2 separate regions of the Homo sapiens genome follow, and region 1 is linked to region 2. The links come from fine-mapping of genetic effects on gene expression. A gene starts in region 2. The other region holds a variant in brackets. All regions are shown on one strand. Distances are between the middles of the regions. Region 1 has its middle 28 kb from the start of GADD45B. Region 2 holds the start of GADD45B (growth arrest and DNA damage inducible beta).

The links.
Region 1: its variant is fine-mapped to the expression of GADD45B in whole blood (TOPMed, PIP 0.95).

The regions. Positions count from the first base shown.
Region 1 is chr19:2,501,567-2,506,933 of GRCh38, forward strand. It overlaps the pseudogene RNU6-993P. Among named protein-coding and RNA genes, the nearest start is that of GADD45B, 28 kb to the left of the region's middle. The variant G/A (reference allele first, on the strand shown) is at 3,103.
Region 2 is chr19:2,474,098-2,479,464 of GRCh38, forward strand. It overlaps GADD45B (growth arrest and DNA damage inducible beta), which reads left to right and starts at 2,030. Exons shown (of 4, transcript NM_015675.4): 1 at 2,030-2,305; 2 at 2,432-2,533; 3 at 2,932-3,154; 4 at 3,391-4,160. The coding sequence starts at 2,262. The coding sequence ends at 3,504. RefSeq lists silencers at 671-810, 1,181-1,290, 4,851-5,367 and enhancers at 2,031-2,100, 2,102-2,689, 2,671-2,760, 2,690-3,279, 2,921-3,030 and 6 more.

The sequences.
Region 1 (5,367 bases), 27 kb after region 2:
TAAAAGTCTCTGCTTAGATAAGCACTATGCTTCTGCTGCCTGTAAATGGCTCTTTTACCCTTTCTTTAGCATGAAAACAAATTTTCTAATTATTATAAACAAAATGTGTGCAATGTGGAGGCTGGCTGTTGGTACTCATTATCCTTCTCTTGCTTGACGTCAAGTGAAAGATAAATTGTTGCCTCTGGCCCTTCCCAGGACCAAAGAGAAGGCACGACGTCAAATGCATCTCCTTGGATTTGGGAGGCAATGTATACTTAATTTGGGTGTGCTTCCCCGGCCTGGTTGAGGAGGCCATCGTGCCCTCCCTCCATCAGTCTGCGCTCTGTGGCATCTGTGGCGTGGACCCTTCTTTGCTTTGCAGAGGCAGAGTGTCTGCATTCGGCATCGTACCCAGCCCAGTCCAGAGTTTACAGTAGGGGTCACCCTTGGAGGTCTGTGTTCTGTGGGTTTTACCCAATGCATGAGGTTACATATCCACCATGACAGTGTCACATACAGTAATTTCACTGCTCCCCAAATCCTCTGTGCTCCACCTATTCACCCTTATCCCCGCTTCCTTCAACCTGGGTAACCCCTGATTTTTTTTTTTTTTTTTTTTTTTTGATGGAGTCTCATTCTGTCACCCAGGCTGGAGTACAGCAGTGCCATCTGGGCTCACTGCAACCTCCGCCTCCCGGGTTCGAGCGATTCTCCTGCCTCAGCCTCCCGAGTAGCTGGGATTACAGGCCTGCACCACCACATCCAGCTAATTTTGTATTTTCAGTAGAGACAGGGTTTCTCCATGTTGGTCAGGCTGGTCTCCAACTCCCGACCTCAGGTGATCCACCCGCCTCAGCCTCCCAAAGTGCTGGGATAACAGGCGTGAGCCACCACTGATGTTTTTACTCATGTATAGCTTTGCCTTTTGCGGAATCTTTTCTAGTTGGGATCGTAGCATGGAGGCTGTGAAGGCTGCAGCTTCTTTCACTTGTTTCCCGGTGTATTCCAGATTTCAGGAGTTATTCGTACAACTCGGCTTGTGACTTCACATCACTCCAGCCTCTTGTTTCTGTTGTTATGTCTCCTTCTCTGACTGACCTTCCTGCCACCCTCTTACAAGGACCCTGTGATGACATTGGGCCTACCTGGATAATCCAGACAAGATCTCTAATTTTTTTTTTTTTTTTGAGACAGAGTCTTGCTCTGTTGCCCAGGCTAGAGTACAGCGGCTCCATCTCGGCTCACTGCAACCTCTGCCTCCCGGGTTCAAGCCATTCTCCTGCCTCAGCCTCCCAAGTAGCTGGGACTAGAGGTGCCCGCCACCACGCCTGGCGAATTTTTTGTACTTTTTTTTAGTAAAGACGGGGTTTCACCGTGTTAGCCAGGATGGTCTCGATCTCCTGACCTCGTGATCCACCCGCCTTGGCCTCCCAAAGTGCTGGGATTACAGGCGTGAGCCACCCGCCTGGCAATTTTTAATTATTATTATTTCTTTTTTAAAAATATGAAATGCTTCATGTCATCCTTACGCAGGGGCAATACTAATCTTTGCATCCTTCCAACTTTTTGAATATGTGCTACTGAAGTGAGCATGTTATAAGGGTAAGGTTTTGTTTTTTTGTTTTTTTTTTTTAATTTTGAGATGGAGTTTTGCTCTTGTTGCAATGATGCGATCTCATCTCACTGCAATCTCTGCCTCCCAGGTTCAAGTGATTCTCCTGCCTTAGCCTCCTGAGTAGCTGGGATCACAGGCATGAGCCACCACGTCCAGCTAATTTTGTACTTCTAGTAGAGACGGGGTTTCGCCATGTTGGTTAGGCTGGTCTCGAACTCCTGACCTCAGGTGATCCACCCACCTTGGCCTCCCAAAGTGCTGGGATTACAGGCATGAACCACTGTACCCGGCCAGTAAAGGCTTTAAATGTTTAATGACTTCAATCTGTTGTGACTTTTTTTCTGTCCTAATAGCTTAAGCAAACCCCTTCTGGAATATCTGAAAAATATGTTGGTGGGTGTATGAGACAGGGCCGACTTCATGGGTGTGCGACTTGTGAGTCACCCAGGGCCCCATGATCAGAAGCGCTGTGTGGTCGGAAGGGCCCCACCCTTGGTTTAATGCTGCTGTCATTGTCTTGAAATTCTTAAACATTTTTGAAAAAGGGCCCTGTGTTTTCATTTTTTACTGAGCCCTGCACGTTACATGGCCGGTCCTGGTATGAGACCCTCTTATGCTCCCCTGCAGAGCCCCTCGACCTCACCCACTCACGGGCTAGCTCCGTCAGGTGTTGACGGATGTCACTCAGGTGTGAGCTCTGCACCTGAGCTCCCCCCTGCACACAGGCAGCCACAACCAGTCAGTGCAGAGGTGAGCCTGTGGCCAGTGAGGAGCCGGTGAGTCAACCTCCTCCCGCCTACGGGCCCTGAGACGCCGGCTCCGTGAGCTTGCGGGGTCGAGGGCGCCTATATTAAGCCAAGGCTGAGGCAGTGACACACCCTCTTATGGGCCTGCTCTCGCTCCCTGCTTCATTGTCCTGGTCTCTCCCTCTCGTATGGAGGATCAGACTGGACTCCCCCAGAAAACAAGAGCATATGAACCTTCTGTCTCAGGCTCTGCCTCTGGGGAGCCCAAGCTATGGTTGGCTGAATAGCAGCCGGCAAAGATGTCCTTGTTCTAATTCCGGGAGCACAGGGGTATGTCACCTTCCACGGCAACAGAGACTCTGCAGGTGCGATTGAGTGAAGGACTCTGAGATGGGAGAGCAGCCTGGATGATCTGGAGTCCCCAGTGTCCTCACAGGGTCCCTCATAAGAAAGACTAGAAGAGGCTGCGCTCCTGGCTGCGAAGGTGGAGGAAGGGGCCCCGAGCTGAGGGATGTGAGCCCCTCGACGCTGGGAAAGACGAGGAGTTGGATTCTTTTTTTTTTTTTTAATTTAAAATAATTTAATTTTAAGTCTGGGATACATGTGCAGATCTAAATGATAGTCTAGGAGAAAATATTTGCAACACCTATAACAGATCAGAATTCCCAAGCCTGCAGGTTTGTTACATAGGTAAACATGTGCCATGGTGGTTTGCTGCAATCAACCCGTCACCTAGGTATTAAGCCCCACATGTTGCTG[G/A]GCGCGGCGGCTCATGCCTGTAATCCCAGCACTTTGGGAGGCCGAGGTGGGTGGCTTGCTCGAGGTCAGGAGTTCGAGACCAGCCTGACCCACATGGTGAAACCCCGTCTCTACTAAAAATACAAAAATTAGCTGGGTGTGGTGGCGGACGCCTGTAATCCCAGCTACTCAGGAGGCTGAGGCAGGAGAATCACTTGAACCTGGGAAGCAGAGGTTGCAGTGAGCTGAGATTGCACCATTGCACTCCAGCCTGGGTGACAGAGCGAGACTCCGTCTCAAACAAACAAAAAGCCCCACGTACGTCAGCTCTTTATCCTGGAGCCCTCCCTCCCTTCCCCCTCACCTCACCCCCCAGCGGCCCCAGTGTGTGTTGTTCCCCTCCCTGTGTCCATGTGTTCTCAGTATTCAGCTCCCACTTATAAGTGAGAACATGTGGTGTTTGATTTTCTGTTCTGTGTTAGTTTGCTGAGGACAACGGCTTCCAGCTCCATCCATGTCCCTGCAAAGGACATGATCCCGTTCCTTTTTGTGGCTGCATAATATTCCATGCTGTGTATGTACAACATTTTTGTCTTTTGAGACAGAGTCTTGCTCTTGTCACCCAGGCTGGAGTGCAATGGCGGGATCTCAGCTCACTGCAACTTCCACCTCCCGGGTTCAAGCAATTCTCCTGCCTCAGCCTCCCGAGTAGCTGGGACTACAGGTGCCCACCACCACACTCAGCTAATTTTTTGTATTTTCAGTAGAAACAGGGTTTCACCGTGTTAGCCAGGATGGTCTCGATTTCCTGACCTCGCGATCCACCCTCCTCAGCCTCCCAAAGTGCTGGGATTACAGGCGTGAGCCACCGCGCCCAGCCAGGATGTATCATTTTAAATCTTAGTTTGTGGAACAGTTTTCTAACTAAGCATGTCACAAAACCTAGAGAATCAAGAAAGGAACATGTTGATGAGTTTTGTGTGCCAGACATAAAAATCTAAATGATAGTCTAGGAGAAAATATTTGCAACACTTGTAACAGACCAGAATTAACAAGCCTGCGTAAAAAGTGTCTTTCATCCCAAAGAAATACGCAAGTGATTTAATTAGGAAATAAACAGACTGGGTGCAGTGGCACACACCTGTAATCCCAGCACTTTAGGAGGCCAAGATAGGAGGATCACCTGAGCCCAGGAATTGGAGACCAGCCTGGGCAACACAGCAAGAACTCATCTTTAAAATTTTTTTTTAAATTAGCTGAGTGTGGTGGTGCTTCCATGTAGTCCCAGCTACTTGGGAGGCTGAGGTGGGAAGACTGCTTGAATTTGGGAGATCAAGGCTGCAGTGAGCTATGATAGCACCACTGGACTCCAGCCCGGGCGACAGAGCCAGCAGGCCCTGTCTCAAAAAAGAAAAAAAAAAAAAAAAGAAAAGAAAAGAAACAAAAAGTATGAATAGGCATTTTACATATGAGGGAATAAAAATGTCTCATAATTCTAGGGACCGGTACACACACATATGCTGGAATGCACACACACATCCAAGTGTGTGTACAGAAATTAATATGTAGGCTGGGTACGGTGGCTAATGCCTGTAATCCCAGCACTTTGGGAGGCTGAGGAAGGCGGATCACCTGAGGTCAGGAGTTCGAGACCAGCCTGACCAACATGGCGAAATCCCGTCTTTCCTAAAAATACAAAATTAGCTGGGCGTGGTGGGTGCATGCCTGTAATCCCAGCTAAATCCCAGCTACTCGGGAGGCTGAGGCAGGAGAATCACTTGAATCCGGGAGGTGGAGGTTGCAGTGAGCCGAGAACACGCCATTGCACTCTATCCTGGGCGGCAAGAGTGAAACTCCGTGTCAAAAAAAAAGAAAGAAAGAAACATGTTCATAAGGCACTTTATTGAAAGATAGTGTGTAAAAGTAGCAAAACTCAGAAATAATCTAAATGTCCATCAATAGTATATAATTTTTTTTTTTTTGAGATGGAGTCTCGCTCTGTTGCCCAGGCTGGAGTGCAGTGGCACAATCTTGGCTCACTGCAACCTCTGCCCCCCAGGTTCATTGCCTGCCTCATCTTCCTGAGTAGCTGGGATCACAGGTGCCTGCCACCATGCCTGGCTAATTTTTATTTTTTATTTTGGTATTTTTAGTAGAGACGGGGTTTCACCATGTTGACCAGGCTGGCCTTGAACTCCTGACCTCAGGTGATCCTCCCGCCTCGGCCTCTCAAAGTGCTGGGATTTCAGGTGTGAGCCACCGCGTCCGGCTAAGCATGTAAATTAA
Region 2 (5,367 bases):
CCACCTCCTGGGTTCAAGTGATACTCCTGCCTCAGCCTCCTGAGTAAGCTGGGATTACAGGCGCGTGCCACCACGCCCAGCTAATTTTTGTGTTTTTAGTAGAGACAGGGTTTCACCATGTTGGTCAGGCTGGTCTCGAACTGACCTCACGATCTGCCCGCCTCAGCCTCCTAATGTGCTGGGATTACCCAGCCTGCAATACTTTTTAAAAATCAAAATCAATGCCCAAGTATCCATGAGGAACAAAATATCAAAATTGTAAATAAAGACAGAATCTGACTTTGCACTTATCCCACCCACCTCCCTGATCTTCCTTATCTTCAGCTCATGTTGGCCATGTTGGTCAGGTTGGTCTCGAACTCCTGACCTCAGTTGATCCGCCCGCCTCGGACTCCCAAAGTGCTGGGATTACAGGCGTAAGCCACCGCGCCCGGCCGATTTAACTTTTAAATTGAAATTATAAAATATAAATATGTATGTTGCATGCGTAAAACATTGCATAAAGTTACATAAAACGTTGCAACCGCCACGGTCCCCTTATCCCCCGCCTCCAGCCCAGTGCCCCGCCCGTCCGTCCCTCTCTTCCGGCGCTGAGGGCGCAGAAACTCGGCGCGGCCACCAGATGGCGCCACCGCGCCTCGCAGCCCCGGGACATTTCGTGCCCCAGCGGTGGGCGGCGCGGAGGAGGTGGGATGCGTCAGCCGGACCCGCGGGCCGGGGAGCCGGGCAACTGGGGAAAGTGAGCCGCCGGGCGGAGGCCAGACCCCAGGCTGGCGGGGGAGGGGACTCAGATGTGAGTCACCCGGGAGCCCCCAGTCGACCGTGGGAGACGTTGTCATGCGGGGCCTGCCAGCCTCGCTCCTGAACAGCCTTCCCGGGGCGGCGGAGTCCTGCAGGCGGCCGTGCCTGGCGCACACGCGTGGCTCCAACACGAACTAGCCTATGGCCTCACCAAGCCTCAGTTTCCCCTTTTGCATAATGCACATAAGCATCCCCCCTGCTTCCCAGGTCTTGGATTAAATCATCCATGAATCCGGAGGGGTGGGGGGTACCAGGTCCGCACCACGCACTCAATGCAGGTCAGCGCCCACCCCGGAGTGAGAAATAAAAGTAGCCGTCATCCTTGCACGTGGGCCCTGGGTGGCGGCGTGCAGCCGGAGCCTGCACCATTCCCCTCAACAATGGCTTTCTCCAGGGCCTGGAGGCCTCCGCACGGGCAAAGGCTGGAACGCCAGGCAGCCGGCGGGGGCGGGGCCGCGCCACCTGCACCTCCCACGCGCACCCCACCCTGATACTCGCGGGGTCGGCGAGGAGGCGCCCACTTTCTTCTCCAGAGCGCCCCGGGCTTTGCAACCTCCCACTTTCGGGGCCCTCGAGGAGGCCTCCCGCGACCACCAGGTGACAGCTGATGTGTATTGGGCTCTTACTGTCAGCCGTATTTTATGCCATGCTCTGCAAACCAGCGAGGCCGGCGCTGCAGACCCATTACTCAGACGGGAACAGAGAGGCCGGGAGAAGCGAAATCACCCAGGGGCTGGGGTCGTCGCAGCCAGGAGAGACTCCGGCCCTCACCACCACCTGGGCGAGATCACGCTGCAAACGGGGCCCCTTCCCGGTGCAGCCCCTCCACCCCCAGCAGAACTTGGGAAAGGCGCGGTCCGGGACTCTCCGCGGATCGGGAGGGGATTCCAGGCCCCCCCGAAAGTCCGGGCCGCCTCGCGCGCTGGAAATCCCGCGCGCGCCCCGAACCGCGGCTCGGCTGCCGGGAAATCAGGAGAAAAAAACTTCTGCTTTTTTTTCTTTTCTGGCATTCGCGGTCACCTACCCGGCCCCCGCGCGCCCTCCTCCCGGTTCTCGCCCCCACGTGGGGCGCCCCCGCACGCCGCTCCTCCCCCTCCCCTCCGTCGGCCAACCGCAGAGCTAGCTGCACTCGCCCTTGTCTTTCCACCAATAGGAGGGGCGAATGACTCCACTGAGGCCACGCCCAATGTTCAAGTCTATAAAAGTCGGTGCCGGAGGCTCCCAGCTCAGATCGCCGAAGCGTCGGACTACCGTTGGTTTCCGCAACTTCCTGGATTATCCTCGCCAAGGACTTTGCAATATATTTTTCCGCCTTTTCTGGAAGGATTTCGCTGCTTCCCGAAGGTCTTGGACGAGCGCTCTAGCTCTGTGGGAAGGTTTTGGGCTCTCTGGCTCGGATTTTGCAATTTCTCCCTGGGGACTGCCGTGGAGCCGCATCCACTGTGGATTATAATTGCAACATGACGCTGGAAGAGCTCGTGGCGTGCGACAACGCGGCGCAGAAGTAAGTAGCCGGGGCTGCCGCCGCCTGAGGTCAGCCGGGACGGGATGGGTCGGGTTGGGCCGGGCCGGGAGCGGAACGTAGCACCCGGTGGTCCGCCCGTCACTGATCCCTCTTTCCTGGTCTCAGGATGCAGACGGTGACCGCCGCGGTGGAGGAGCTTTTGGTGGCCGCTCAGCGCCAGGATCGCCTCACAGTGGGGGTGTACGAGTCGGCCAAGTTGATGAATGTGTGAGTCAGACCCCCTTCCCGGGCTGGGCGCGGGTGGGACGGGACCTCCCCTCCGCTCTGGACGCTTTCCGCACGCTTGTCTTGCATGGAGCTGGGACTTCCCCAAGTGCCCCCCGCTGTGGATGCAGAGCTTCTCTGCCGTTTTGTGGATCGGGGGCTGCCGTATCCTGATGTATCGTCTGCAAACACCCCTCCCGCCGTGGGCCTGTCTCCCCCTACCCCATACTTTGAACCGTGTGCCCTCCCCTCCCCCCACCGTCACCAGCTTGCAGAGGCAATCCCCTGCACCCTTGCAGTTTCTCTTTTGCTCTTGCACGCTCCTTTTTTGCAAACTCCCCCTGCACGGTGGCCCCTCCCCTGTCCCCGGCTGACCCATCCCTACCCTTTGGCCCCCTCAGGGACCCAGACAGCGTGGTCCTCTGCCTCTTGGCCATTGACGAGGAGGAGGAGGATGACATCGCCCTGCAAATCCACTTCACGCTCATCCAGTCCTTCTGCTGTGACAACGACATCAACATCGTGCGGGTGTCGGGCATGCAGCGCCTGGCGCAGCTCCTGGGAGAGCCGGCCGAGACCCAGGGCACCACCGAGGCCCGAGACCTGCATTGTCTCCTGGTCACGGTGAGTCGGGCCTCTGCCCTGCCCCGCCACGCCCGGGCACCTGGGCCGGTGTTTGTCAACAAAGTCGGGCTGACTGGTCCTGCACAGCTCAGCGCTCAGCCACGTTTGGCATGTCCCGTGGGCAGCCGGGCTGGGGCCTCCTCACCCAGGAAGCTATTTTGAGCCTGACTGTTTTCCCCACACAGGGGCCCCGGGAGAGGGAGGCTCCACTAAACCCCTTCTTTTCCCTCCTACAGAACCCTCACACGGACGCCTGGAAGAGCCACGGCTTGGTGGAGGTGGCCAGCTACTGCGAAGAAAGCCGGGGCAACAACCAGTGGGTCCCCTACATCTCTCTTCAGGAACGCTGAGGCCCTTCCCAGCAGCAGAATCTGTTGAGTTGCTGCCACAAACAAAAAATACAATAAATATTTGAACCCCCTCCCCCCCAGCACAACCCCCCCAAAACAACCCAACCCACGAGGACCATCGGGGGCAGAGTCGTTGGAGACTGAAGAGGAAGAGGAGGAGGAGAAGGGGAGTGAGCGGCCGCCCCCAGGGCGGAGATCCAGGAGCTGGCGGCCGCCGATCCGATGGAGAAGGGGGGACCCAGGCCAGCAGGAGACAGGACCCCCGAAGCTGAGGCCTTGGGATGGAGCAGAAGCCGGAGTGGCGGGGCACGCTGCCGCCTTCCCCATCACGGAGGGTCCAGACTGTCCACTCGGGGGTGGAGTGAGACTGACTGCAAGCCCCACCCTCCTTGAGACTGGAGCTGGCGTCTGCATACGAGAGACTTGGTTGAACTTGGTTGGTCCTTGTCTGCACCCTCGACAAGACCACACTTTGGGACTTGGGAGCTGGGGCTGAAGTTGCTCTGTACCCATGAACTCCCAGTTTGCGAATTATAGAGACAATCTATTTTGTTACTTGCACTTGTTATTCGAACCACTGAGAGCGAGATGGGAAGCATAGATATCTATATTTTTATTTCTACTATGAGGGCCTTGTAATAAATTTCTAAAGCCTCTGGTTGCTTGTATGTTTTCGGCTTCTAGAACAACTAGGACCCCTGCCCCCTCCCCGGGGACACGCTTCACCCCCCACAACCCCCGCCAGCTCACCAGGAAGTGTTACTTAAGCCCCTGTTAGCAGCTCCAGGCTCCCGTGCAGAAACAGTACCCCTTCTCTCCGCAGCAGGCGCCGCCACCGACTCCAACAAATCTATGCCTCTTTTTTTTTTTCCTTCTCCTCCTACCCTGCAGCAATTAAGAGACCGGTTTATTACGAAACCTGGCCGCCGTGCCACCACTGTTACTGGCTGTGCAGGAGCCAACCCCAAGCTCTGGGCACATATGGAGGCATTTCAGCGGGAGGGGGTGCTGGCTGCAGCCCCTGACCGCCTAGGCGGCCACCGCAGCCCAAGGTCCGGATCGGTCAAGGGGGCACCTGGTACCACACAGCGAGGTGAGCTCAGGGCTTGCAAGGAAGAGCGCTTTTGGAGGCTTCCCCAGGGAGTGCCCCCCCAGCCCACCACAGCCTTCTCCATCCCAGGATAGGCCTCTCTTTTGCACTAAAGAAAAAAACTTTTTTTATTTCCGCAAACTAAAATCAACAAGCAGAAAAATACCCCAGGAAGTCGGCCTCCGGGCCAGCCGGGCTTGGCGCAGTGCTGCGTTTTGCCTGTAAACCGAAACTGCGAGCCCTGGCCAGCCACCTCCTACTTCTCCCAAAGTTGCAGGCGCGGTGGTGACTCCCCCTGCCCCGGGCTGGGAGCGTGGCCCAGCCCTTCCGTGCCCGGCCTCAGTCTTCCCGCCCCGGGTCTGCAGAGTGGGCCCGCCCTGGCCAGGCGCCGGGACGACCTCGGTTCCCCTCTGCCCTGCAGCCCCCAAGCCTGGGAACTAGGGGGGAGTGGGGAGGGGGTGGGGTGGTCCTGCCCGCAGGCCGCGACCTTTCCACGGAGCCTCACGTGGGCGCATGAGGAAAACCCCAGCGGCTCCCTAGGAGTCACGGGGATCGGGGGAGCCCCGACGGGGGAGGGAGAGAGAGAAGGAGGGGGAAGTCCCAGAGGGAGAAGCGGGGAGGGGAGAGGATCCCGCCTGGGGCTAGGAGGAGGGGAGAACTGAAGTGGGGAGAGGGGAGCCCAAGAAGGGGAAGGGGAATCCCCCACAGCCCTGAACCAACAGGGAAACCCCGGGAGGGGGGTAGACAGGTAGGAGTCCCGAAGGGGTTGGGGG